2 separate regions of the Homo sapiens genome follow, and region 1 is linked to region 2. A link means that fine-mapping ties the variant in region 2 to the expression of a gene that starts in the linked region. Tissue or cell type: whole blood. Region 2 holds a variant in brackets; the other region holds the start of a gene. All regions are shown on one strand. Distances are between the middles of the regions. Region 1 holds the start of MACROH2A1 (macroH2A.1 histone). Region 2 overlaps MACROH2A1 (macroH2A.1 histone).

Region 1 (5,371 bases), 22 kb after region 2:
AAGATAACCAGTCTCACGGAAGGCTATTTAGAGAAAAGTTAAAGTGTGGGCTTCACAGGACAGGACTCTGATAAGGCTTAGCATGTAGAATCCACTCATTATTTGCCGAGTAGACGTGTTCCCAATAAGAATAAAAAGAACACCTGATCCTGTCTCTCTCCTGCTCAAAACCCTTCAGTTGCTCTTAGGATAAAGTGTGGGTCTGACCAGAATCCTTTGTGATTTGTCCTGTTTGTCCCTCCCTGAAGCCTCACCTGACTCCGCACCAGGACTCAGCCATCCCGAGCCTCTGGCAGTTCCCCACATGACCTCTGTTCTTTTCTTCTAAGATGCACACATGGGGTTCCCCAGGCCTCAAACACTTGTCCCCATCTGCCCTCCTTTGCCCAGCCATCTCCTGCTTGACCTTTCCAAGCCAGATAAGGGCTCACTCCTGGCTAGGTTACTGTACCTGCTGGGGGGCTACGTGGGGCCTTTTGCACTGATTTTACAACAGCTACTTGCCTGCCTTCTCCCAAAGTCAGCTCCCCCAAGGTAGGGGCTAGGCATTTCTTAATCACGGCTGTGTCCCCAGTGCCTGAACAGGAGCTGATTCTCAGGAAATCTTTATGGAAAGACTCTGAGACACTGACCTGACAGGTTTGGTCCAAGCAAACAAGCTATACAACTCTTTGGAATGAAGAGTTGACTCACTCAGGCTCACTTGTAAGCACTGAGGCAGGGCCCAAAAGACCTCTAAACCTACAGAATATGGGAAGGACCCACAGAGATCTGGGCCCCAATCACTCCTGCCCCTTCCCAGCCCATGTTCTAGGAATGGGGCTCTGAAAAGGCTGTCACAAATCCTTGGGGACACTCAAATAAAACCAGAGGCTGTTGCAGTTCTGATGAACAACACATATAGAGTCTTGTTGGGTTCTTCGGCTTGAGGTTTTCAGTTTATGCTTTTATTTAAATAAATCTCCTTTAGGTGACTTGGGGCCGCATTAGCTCTGAAGGCAGGTCCCAGAACACATGCCCTCTGAGCTTCTCAGTGGGGAAGGAATGCGAGGCGCTCCTCAAGTTCGCCTCTCTCAGGGACCAGAAGAAACATCAGATGGAGATGTGTCACTCCCTGACACTGGCCCATTTGGTAAAAACTAAACCAGTGGCATGGTTGTATACTAGAATGTCACATGTGAAGTTCCAGACAATTCTTAAAGTTTAATAAAATGTGAGTTAAATTATGCCTCCTTCTAAAGGCCTGCCTCAAACAATTTTCATTTAGACAACCCTCTTAATGCCTTATCTAGGGATCAGCATTAACAATGGTGACAGATCGAAGCCAAAGAACAGACTGGAAAGATTTCTCTCTCCTTGTAAAACTAGAAGGGGGAAGAATTTGAAGTCTTTCAAGAGTTTTGTTGTGTTTAAGAAAAAATAAGTTTGAAAACATACTCATCCTCATCAGAGAGTCTCTTGTGCAAGACTGAGATGCTGCTGCCCAACTCTAGTTAAATGTGTACAATGGGTATTAATTCCAGTTGCAGGCAAGAGGTGTCCATTTCAGAGTTAACACCTCTGACAACAGGCTAGTAGCCTAAAGGTGGCCTGCAGTAGGTGAATTCCACCTAATTTACAACTCGAGTCTCCCATTCAAACCTAAGACTGTTAAAAAATGCCCGACTCCCTGGAGCAGGGAGCTTTGGAACAAAACACTTCCCTTACCCCCTACTTTAACGGTAAAACCTCAAACCACAAAGGTGGAAGAAAAGAGGGAAGCTAGCAGGAGTGCCCCCTCTAATTGTCTATTCTTATGTGCTGTTTACTGGGTCATTAAAATCTTACAAGGCCTTTATAGTCATTGTAATTGTTGAATTCAAGGTTTGTCCCAGTTGTTTGTACAGAAGTCTCTCACTTTGAAACTCAGAAACATTTCCCCTAACATCTTGTCTAAAAGAACCTTTCAAGCAATGTACTGACCAACTCCTTGAGTGATCTGTGGCCCCTGCAGGAGTGGGGGTAGGGAGCGCCATGTCGCACACCTGTTGTCAGGTGACACTGCCAGCAGCATCCTGCACACTCACCTCCCCACTCCACCCCACCCCCAGCGAGGCTCTTTCCTGCTGGCCTTCTCCACCCGGGGAAGCCTACAGCCTTCCGGAGTTACCTTTTAAAAAAAGCAAACCCTTCCTACCACAAAGCAAACAAAAGGCTGATACCGAGACAATCGGGAGCAGCGGGGGTTCCCGTGGCCCCTCTCCAGCCCATCCTTGGACCACTCCCCAACCCGGTCCCCCGCACCAGCCCGGCTTCAATCCCGCGAGTAGCCCCCGCCTTCCCCTCCCTGCAGATAGCGAGCCAGACGCCTACACCTCGGCCCCCCGGGGCTCGGGCCCGACTTATTGTGCCGGGGCCGGCAACTCGCGGGCCGGCGGGGGCCTCACCAAGTACAACTCTGCTCACAGCAGCTCCCGGGTGCCCAGGCCCAGACTGCCTAGCCAGCGCCGCGGGGCCTCCTGCGGCCTCGGGCCTGGCCCGTGAGCCCGCCCCAGGAAGGGTCGCCAGGGTAGGCGCCAGCACCGCTTTTTTCCCACAAAAGCGCCCAGGCGCGGGCAGGGGGATGCGTTTCGAAGAGAAGTTGGTTTCCAGGTTTCTTTTTTGAACAAAACCAAAGGGAATCCCGCGCGGCCCGACAAGGCCTGGGAGGACGTAGTGCACGCGCGAGGACCCGGCGTGGGCCACACCGAACCCGGCGGCCCGAGCCCGGCCCGCACCACACCGGTGCGCGCCAGGCCGGGCCGCTCCCGGGCACCCGCGGCCGGACCCGAGCGGCGGGGACAGGGAGTGCGGCAAGGGGGCCCGCGCGGCACTTACGCGGCGGCTCGGTGGCGGCGGCGGCAGCTGCAAGGTGTCTCGGCCTGAGCCCTCCTGGCCGCTCGCGCCTTTTCTCTCCGCGCTCCTCGCTGGCCCGCCCGCCTCTTCGCTTCCCGCCCGCGCGGCCCGCGCTCTCCCCCTCCGCCCGGCGCCGCTGCCGAGTGAACTGGAACCAGTCCTCGCGGCCGGCTTCCCACAATGCACAGCGCGCCGCTCGTCACATCCCTTCGCGGCCCCGAGCGTCCGGCCTCCGCGCCCGTGCCGCCCGGCGCCCCGGCCTTGACCCCGGGCCCGCGCCCTACCCGTTGACGCCGGCCGCTCTGCGCCCAGGCACCAGCCCGCACCCCGGACGCGAGGTCTGACCCATGACCCCGGGGACGCCCAGAGCCCAGTCCTTGGGAAGGGCCAGGCCCCTGGAGAGGAGCTTCTTCAGGGCGCGTCCCAGACTCTGCGTCTCGAGTGAACGCCTACTGTGTGCCTGGCTCTGAGCACGGGACTGTCGCTGCCACGGCATCTTTAGGAACCTTCCCACTAACCCAGTGGGAAGGCACAATGGCTGTTACCAGCGATCGCTCTTCCCTCCCCAGTCAATGCCAACTCCCCCCTGCCCCGCCTCAGAGACCCCGCTGTCTTTAGATACAGGCCACCGCCAAGCCCTGGTCTGCCCCAAGATCAATTACTGCGCACCCGGTTCCCCTGGGGTCCTTCAGTTAATCCTCCTCACCCCGAAGTCTGGAACCTGCCTTGCACATGGAAGCGGTTAGCTACTTCGCTTCAGCAAAAGTTCACTTTCGGACCCAAGTTGGGAATTACTAATGTAGACAGTGATTCCTTATCATCACACACGTTTTTTAAAAACTGCGGACAGGCCGAAAGAGGAGGAGCCGCCACAAAGCCCGCCACGTCTTCCTAAATTGGTTTACCGCCTGAAGGCATTGGTGCCCCATCCCGGGTACTTAAATGGGGGCCTGCCCTCTACTCCCCTCCCTCCAAAGTGTGGAGCCGGAAGCCACTTCTCCATCCAGCTGTGAACTAAATTTGGATAATAATACACATCCCTCAGGGTTGATGTGAAGTTTAAAGTGCCGCTACTGGGGATTATGGAGGTAATTAGAGACCCCCACCCCCACCCCCCAGTCCTCAGGCTGCGCGGGAATCGCAGCGGCAGTAACCTCCACCTCACCGGGATGCTTTACACCTTACTTTAAGAGTTTGCAAAACAATGTCCAATACCTGCCATTCATGCATTCGTTAATTCGATTAAGTACTGAGAACGTATTTTGTGTCATACATCGATTTGGGTGCTGGATATGAAACAGCCAAGAGAACAGGCAGAAATCTCTGCCCTCCTGTAGTTTGCAGTCTCGTGGGGGAAAGACAGACAAACGGGAGAATGTGTCAGAGGGTCTCCATGGGGTGGAGAAAAATAAGGCGGAGAAGGGGAATAGGAAGTGTGAGATAAGAGTGAGGCTCAAATACAAGAGAAGGCCTCTATGAGAAAGTAACATTTAAAGCCTGAAGAAATTGAGGGAGCAAGCCGTGTGGATGTCTGGGGAAGAACTGCGCCGAGCATGAGGAATAGCAAGTGCAAAGGCTGGGGTAGGAGTGTGTCCAAAATAGTCAAGACAGAGCGAGTGTGAGGTTGGAGTAGAATGGGTGAAGGGGAAAGTAACAGGAGATGAAGCTGGAAAAATGATGATGCTTATGATGCTTCTGGTCCCAAAACAAAGCATTATGGTTCTATGAGGATCTCCCGAAGAAAAGATGTCAGGAAAGGTGCAGAGACCCTCCCCCACACACCACATTGTTGTTCCATCCTTCTCTGTGCCTTTGGGCAAGGACTCTCCGTTCTGTAGGGACCACCAGGTGGAATTAAAGTCTACACTCCTCCAAGAGCTGATCTTGGGGCGGCCCCACCTCCATGCCCCTCTACAGCGTGCCATTCTCATAGAACACACTAGGACCTTTGTCCTCTGGAGCTGTTCAGTGCAGCAGCTCTGACCTCATCCTTCTCCAGAAGCCTCCACCTTCTCTCCCCTCTCTCCTCCTGCGCTTTGTGTGTCCTGTTCTTCCACTTCGGTGACCTGTCTCCTCCCCTAATCTGGCTCAGAGAGGGGTACCAGCTGCTGCTGCTGCTATTGCTTCTTCTTCTGTTAAAGGTTTTTTATTTTTTTCCAATGACAAAGCTATGCTCATTCTGAAAACATGAAAAATAAAAATGCTCAAAAAATAAAACTCACTCTACATTCATTGCTAGGAGAGAACAGCCTGCTCCCATTCCAGCCTTTTTATCTATATCCACTTAACATTAAACATACAGAGTTTCTACTCTATTTAGTGATTGTCACCTGCACTTTAAACTTAATGGTTCTTTATGAGCATTTTACTGGGTAGTTGTTCTACAATAACATTACTGGAACTGTTTGGGTTTCCCTTGACCCTCTTAAAAATTACTGAGAACCCTGAAGAGCTTTTGTTTTATAGGTTACATCTATCAATATTTGCTTTATTAGAA
Region 2 (5,371 bases):
TCCACCTTCCAGCTAGTTAAGCAAGAGCTTTATCTTCTGTTTACTCTTGCATTTTTTTCAGATGGATAGTTACCATAGTAACCCCATCGTTAAGGGACACACAAGACAGAGCACCTCAGAAACACACCTTTTATGAGAAGTATATTCAGTGTCCCACCCCTCTCCTGTGCTGCAGCAGCAGAGGGCCGGGGCATTTCACCATGGCCAGGGAAAATGGAGGGTGCCCGACTTAACAAAAGCAGTAACCCAGAATACACACTCATCCCCTGCCAACCATCAGTAATACTCACCCTCTCATCCTTAGTCCAGGTTTAGAAAAAGCCATCGTAAAGGGCTTTCCTGGCTAAGAAAGAGTTGCCTGCTGCAGAGACAGCAGAGGTGCAAAATGCCAGCAACTCAACAAGATGGAACGGTTCCCATCTGCTCTCCAGGGCATGTTCCTATTCAGGGGGGAGCGGAGAGGGTGACTGACTGCTGAGGAATTGGGACAGGGCACACGTCACCAAAGGAGATGTCCTGATGTAGTTTTCTTCCCTGTAAGTGATCCTCTGCTTTGCAATAATATGGAGGGCAAAGTCATGGAGGCCCCAGGCTCAGGGCTGTACAGCAATGCCTGCCTGCCCCCCATGCACACTGGGATGGCCCTCACATTCCCACCAGCAAGGAGGGCTTTCTCCTAGGCTAGAACAGAGCCAACTTAAGCCTCTGCCTCAAAGTGAATGGAGCCGATGCCTTCCTACAAGGGGGAGGGTGGGTTCTTGCACTCAATTCATTTCATGTTTTGGAAGGTTTTGTGAGTCTCTGTTTTGTCTGTGGCTGGTCTAAAAGAAAAGCGATTCTGAGAAAGATAACCAGGAAAACACCAGATCTATGGACACAAAAATCCTTTTCTCCAGAGTTTCCAGAGCTCAGCCCTTGGATTCTCTCTTGAAGGAAATTTTCAGGAGCCACAGCCTGGAGGCTGTAACCAAAATAAATGGAATCCATAAGAAACCACAGGAAGAAACGGAAAAGAACAATTAGGAGAAGAAACAGAACCCCTTACCAGGTTCTCCACCCCATCAAGCCAAGTATTCTCAGTCGGTGACAGTCTAAGTTTTGTTACCAATGACCAATACTAGACTGATTTGGGGCCCAAGGCGCTTAGGGTCTGCTCTGAAGAGGACTGTAAGTGTGGTAAAGTTCCCAATTATAAATGGTGCAAAGGGAACAAGTTGAATGGTGAGCAAACTGGCCAGCTCATTAACTCTTCTAAGATTTTTGTTTTTCAAAACACATAAGCCTCTGGTTCTCACTCCTGGCCAGGGCCAGTCTCTGGCAACTAGTGAGTGGCTGGCACCATCATCTGTAGTGGCCTAGATGATGCAACCATATTCCCTCTCCTCAGAGCTGCAAGCCCTGCAGGGACATCCTGGGCCAAACGTTCCCCAGCTTCATTGAACATGACTGTTTTAAGGCCGCTTGACAAAATTCCCACATCCTTGGATAACAGCATGGTTTGGCAGCCTTTTTGACTACAGACCAGCCGTCTGAACATGAATACCTTTGACAGGTCTACTTTGCAAGTCCACCCAGAGACGAAAGGCTTAGGGTCCTTTTTCTTTTTTCCAAATGTCTTGAACTAAAACATATCTGTTGTATTGAAGCATTTTGTCTATCTTCCTTCAGCAAGATGAAGTCATGGTTTGCAGAATTAGACTCCTAACAGCTAACAGGTGATGTGTTGAGGCTGAGCCAAACTCTAAACACAACCCTTGCAATAGGAAAGAGTCAGGGGCTTTAACGGAGCTGTCTGAAGCTCTGTAAAACAGAGCTCATTTAACAAAAGAAATACTGAAAATAACAACCAGAAATCAAAGAAAAGCAAATGTTCACGTAATCCCAAGGAGAAAACATGTTTGCTACAAGGCCAACAACATGACAAGGAATCTGTTTATTGTATTTCTTTCGATTCATCATCCTTCCATCAGCAGTCCTTTGAGTTCAGAACTGTTTTACACCATCCCAGAAGGCCTTAACCCAATCAACCCCAATCGGAAGGTGACTGCTAAGAGCTTCCTGCATTCTGACCACACCACAACCTCCTCCAATTCCCTTGGTGGCTCTGAGTGTTTGCAGCCGCATCCCAGAATCCATTGCCCCCATCCCACCTTTTCAGGAGGTTGAGTGGCAGGGTCTGAAGCTTGCCCAGCCATCAGCTGGGAGCTCTGGGCCACAGCAAAGCTCTCCATCTGCTTGTCCCAGGGGCCTCAAAGGAACCAGAATTCCATAGAGAAAATAAAACCTACAGCAGTGATTGAAAGTAGTATTCCAAAGATGGTTCCAAGCCTGACACAAACTCCTCTACTGTTGTTAAGCCCACTGCAGACTCCTCCGAAAAGTCCAGGAGGAGCCAGGGGTCTCAGAGACAGCATTTGGTCCAGTCTTCTGCCTTCCCACAAAGTCTCCCAATAAGATGGAAATGCAGCTTAATTTGGGAATCTGTAAAGTAAGTTCCACTGACTGGAACTTTCAGCCCTATTTCAAAGTAAAAAATAAATAAGTTTACATTATACATAATAACACAGGGGAGCTATGATTCTTAGCAAACATTACCTTAATCTAACCCACCAACCCAACTCAGTGCCCGAATATCTTCCTTGTCAGGAAGTTTTCCTCTGCCTTCCTCACCTCTGGTGCTGTTTCAGCTGCCCGCTCTGTCTGCAGGGGAGGGCAGCAATCGCAAATGGCACTGTGGTGAGAGCCCGGGGTCTGCTGACAGACCGTCGGGGTTTGGATCCCAGCTCCTGTAATTATCTGTAAGATGTGGCCAAGTGCATCTAAGCCTCAGTTTCCTATTCTGTACAGGGGGAGTGATACCTGAGGTTACCTCTAGGCTTATGAGATTAATGAGTTACCAAGTAAAATGCTTAGTATACTCAGTAAATTCAAGCTACTACTGTTGAGGCTACAACTGCACTGTTAAAAAAGTGCGACAAGCTTGATTACCAGGAGAAAACTGCACTTC[C/T]TTTGCCTCGATTTCCTCTATCTATAACTGGATGATTTCGATGGATGGATTTGTGCCAAAAGGAGGAAAAAAGCAACAGAAAACCTGGTGTTTCCTCTGCCAATAGTTTACTCTTTGCTGTTATGCTTAACAGTTAACATATGTTTGAAAAATGCACTTGAACTCGATTAACCTCGGTGCTGCCAGACCTGCCTTGATGGAACACAGCACCCAGGGCGCCCCCACAGGCATCTCTACCTTGGAATGAGGTCTGGGGCTTTTGTCTGACCACAGCAGAGCGTGCAGAGCCAGTGGCTCAGGCAGTAGAAGTCAAGGCCCTGGGAAGGAGAAGGTGCCTGGGGAGGCCCTGAGAAACCTGTTCTACTCCAAGGCCTGGCTGGCAGCTGGGCAGGACCTCTGACCCACCAATCACTTGCTGTCAAGGACTCTCAATTAAGTTACAAGGAAATGGTTAATATGTATGTTTGTTTTGATAGGGAAAACCACAGCCATTTGTTCTTAATTCATCTCAGGAAGGGGTGAACAATCAGCGATGTCTGCTGAAATGAAATGATTTGAAGAGTATAATGTAAAGAGGAAACTCATTTAAGGAGCCCTGTCATGGTACGGTTTCCCAGATGGACTCAAAGCGAAAGAGCGAGGAGCAGAACAGTGAGTTTCGTGGGCTGCACTGTGTTGGGGGAGGAGGCGACGTCTGCAATCGGGCTACACATGTTCATCAAGACAGGGGAGCAGCTTCGCCCACTGGGAGCAGAATCAGGGACTTGGTCAGAGGGAGACGTTTTGCTCTACTCCCTTTTGTGCTGTTTGAATTTATCTTCTGCATATTTTCCTTTCAAAATGAAAATAATTATAACACTGGATAGATGAGAAGCTGCAGGCACTTCTGCTATCGGCTGCCCCAGCTGGCCTTTGGTACCACAGGTCACAAGCCCCCTTACCCTCAGACACTCTGTCCCAGCCTGCTTAATCCTGCTTCTCCCAAAAAATGGTTCTGAGCATGCGAAGACTTTCTAGGTTCTTTTTTCATGGCTGTTTTTAGAGCAGTGTGAGTGTGTCATAGAAAGGGAGGCCCCTGAGAGGGCACTATAGCTCCTGAGGTCTTTACCAGCCTGGCCTCTGTGCTGTCTGCCGGTGTGGATTCCCGATGCTGAGGACTGCTTGTCTAAGGATTTGCCTAAGCTCCAACACCTAGGATTCCACCTCCTCTTCGCTAAGGGGACAATGAAAGGACATTGGCCAAAAAGCTTCCCACTCTCCAGCCCTCCTCAGTGCCACTGAGTGACACAAGCTCCCCATACCTGACTGGGCACTGCCCTCTCCGACGCCTGCTGTGGCTCCTCAGGGCAGCTCTCTGCCCAGTACCTCGCTTGCTCTGCCACTGCTACAGCAGCAGCTCTAACATGCACCAGACCGCCCCTTCCCGGCGGGCCAGCACATGTCACTCCAGGGGACTTCGCCCCTCCTGTGCTCACACCCACCTCCTGCCTGTGCGCTCTAGACTTTCCTCATCCCTGTCCAGGGCTGCCTATCCTTCAAGGCCTATCTTGCAGGACCCCTGTCCTCCCTGCCCATACGAGGCCACAGGAATGTCTCTGGCAATCACCCATGACTGTTGCAGAGTCTGTCCCCTCAGGCTGTGTCTTCATCGAGCCAGCCTTGGGGACCGGGCATTTACCAGTCTTCCTGAGGTGTACGGTGGCTGCTTCAAGACAAAGGAAATGCCAAGTGGATGAAGTGCTCTGGGGTCCAATTCCTCTGACTGCTAAGGTTTCTGTGCTGTGTGATTTTGGAGAAGTTACTTAAACTCTGAACCTCAATTTACTCCTAAGAAAGCTAGGTGGTTTGAGGATTCGATGAATTACCAAATGTAAAGCATTTAATCAGTGCCTAGCACACAGTAACTGTTCAACATACGGCAGATGTTTTGGAACTTAACTGTTCCACCTTTACCTAGAATTCAGAGCACTTCCCCCGAAGTCCCTAAAACTAGTATTACAAGCCACAGTTAGAATATGAACTAGAGACTGCCAGGGCCTGGGGTGGGAGTGAAAGGGCAAGAAAAACAATGCTACTCAAGTTAAGTACCCTCATTTTCTGAATGAACAGCAGATATTGACTTTTAGCAGTCAATACTCAGATTTATAGAGGCAACATAAATGTGAACCAAAGACTACCTCAGCTACTAGTTACCACAAGGAGCATCAATCAGAATATCGATGGCAAGGGAAACCAACACATTAGCCATTTCCAGAGGCCTTGGGTTTGTTTCCACATGGCTCCCACAGCTCTGCAGGGAACGCGCCTTCTATAAAATCCCAGAGTGTCCCCTGTAGGCAGATGGGGTGATGTCAACCCCGTGAG

The links. PIP is the estimated chance that this variant, and not a neighbour inherited with it, causes the effect.
Region 1: it holds the start of MACROH2A1, and the variant in region 2 is the best candidate, but not a certain one, in a credible set for the expression of MACROH2A1 in whole blood (INTERVAL, PIP 0.85).

What each region holds. Positions count from the first base shown.
Region 1 is chr5:135,396,206-135,401,576 of GRCh38, forward strand. MACROH2A1 (macroH2A.1 histone) reads right to left here and starts at 3,026. Exons shown (of 9, transcript NM_138610.3): 1 at 2,857-3,026. RefSeq lists silencers at 2,362-2,421, 2,732-2,901, 2,912-3,371 and enhancers at 3,272-3,777, 3,778-4,283.
Region 2 is chr5:135,373,869-135,379,239 of GRCh38, forward strand. The region is part of intron 2 of MACROH2A1 (macroH2A.1 histone); the gene reads right to left. Among named protein-coding and RNA genes, the nearest start is that of MACROH2A1, 23 kb to the right of the region's middle. The variant C/T (reference allele first, on the strand shown) is at 3,008.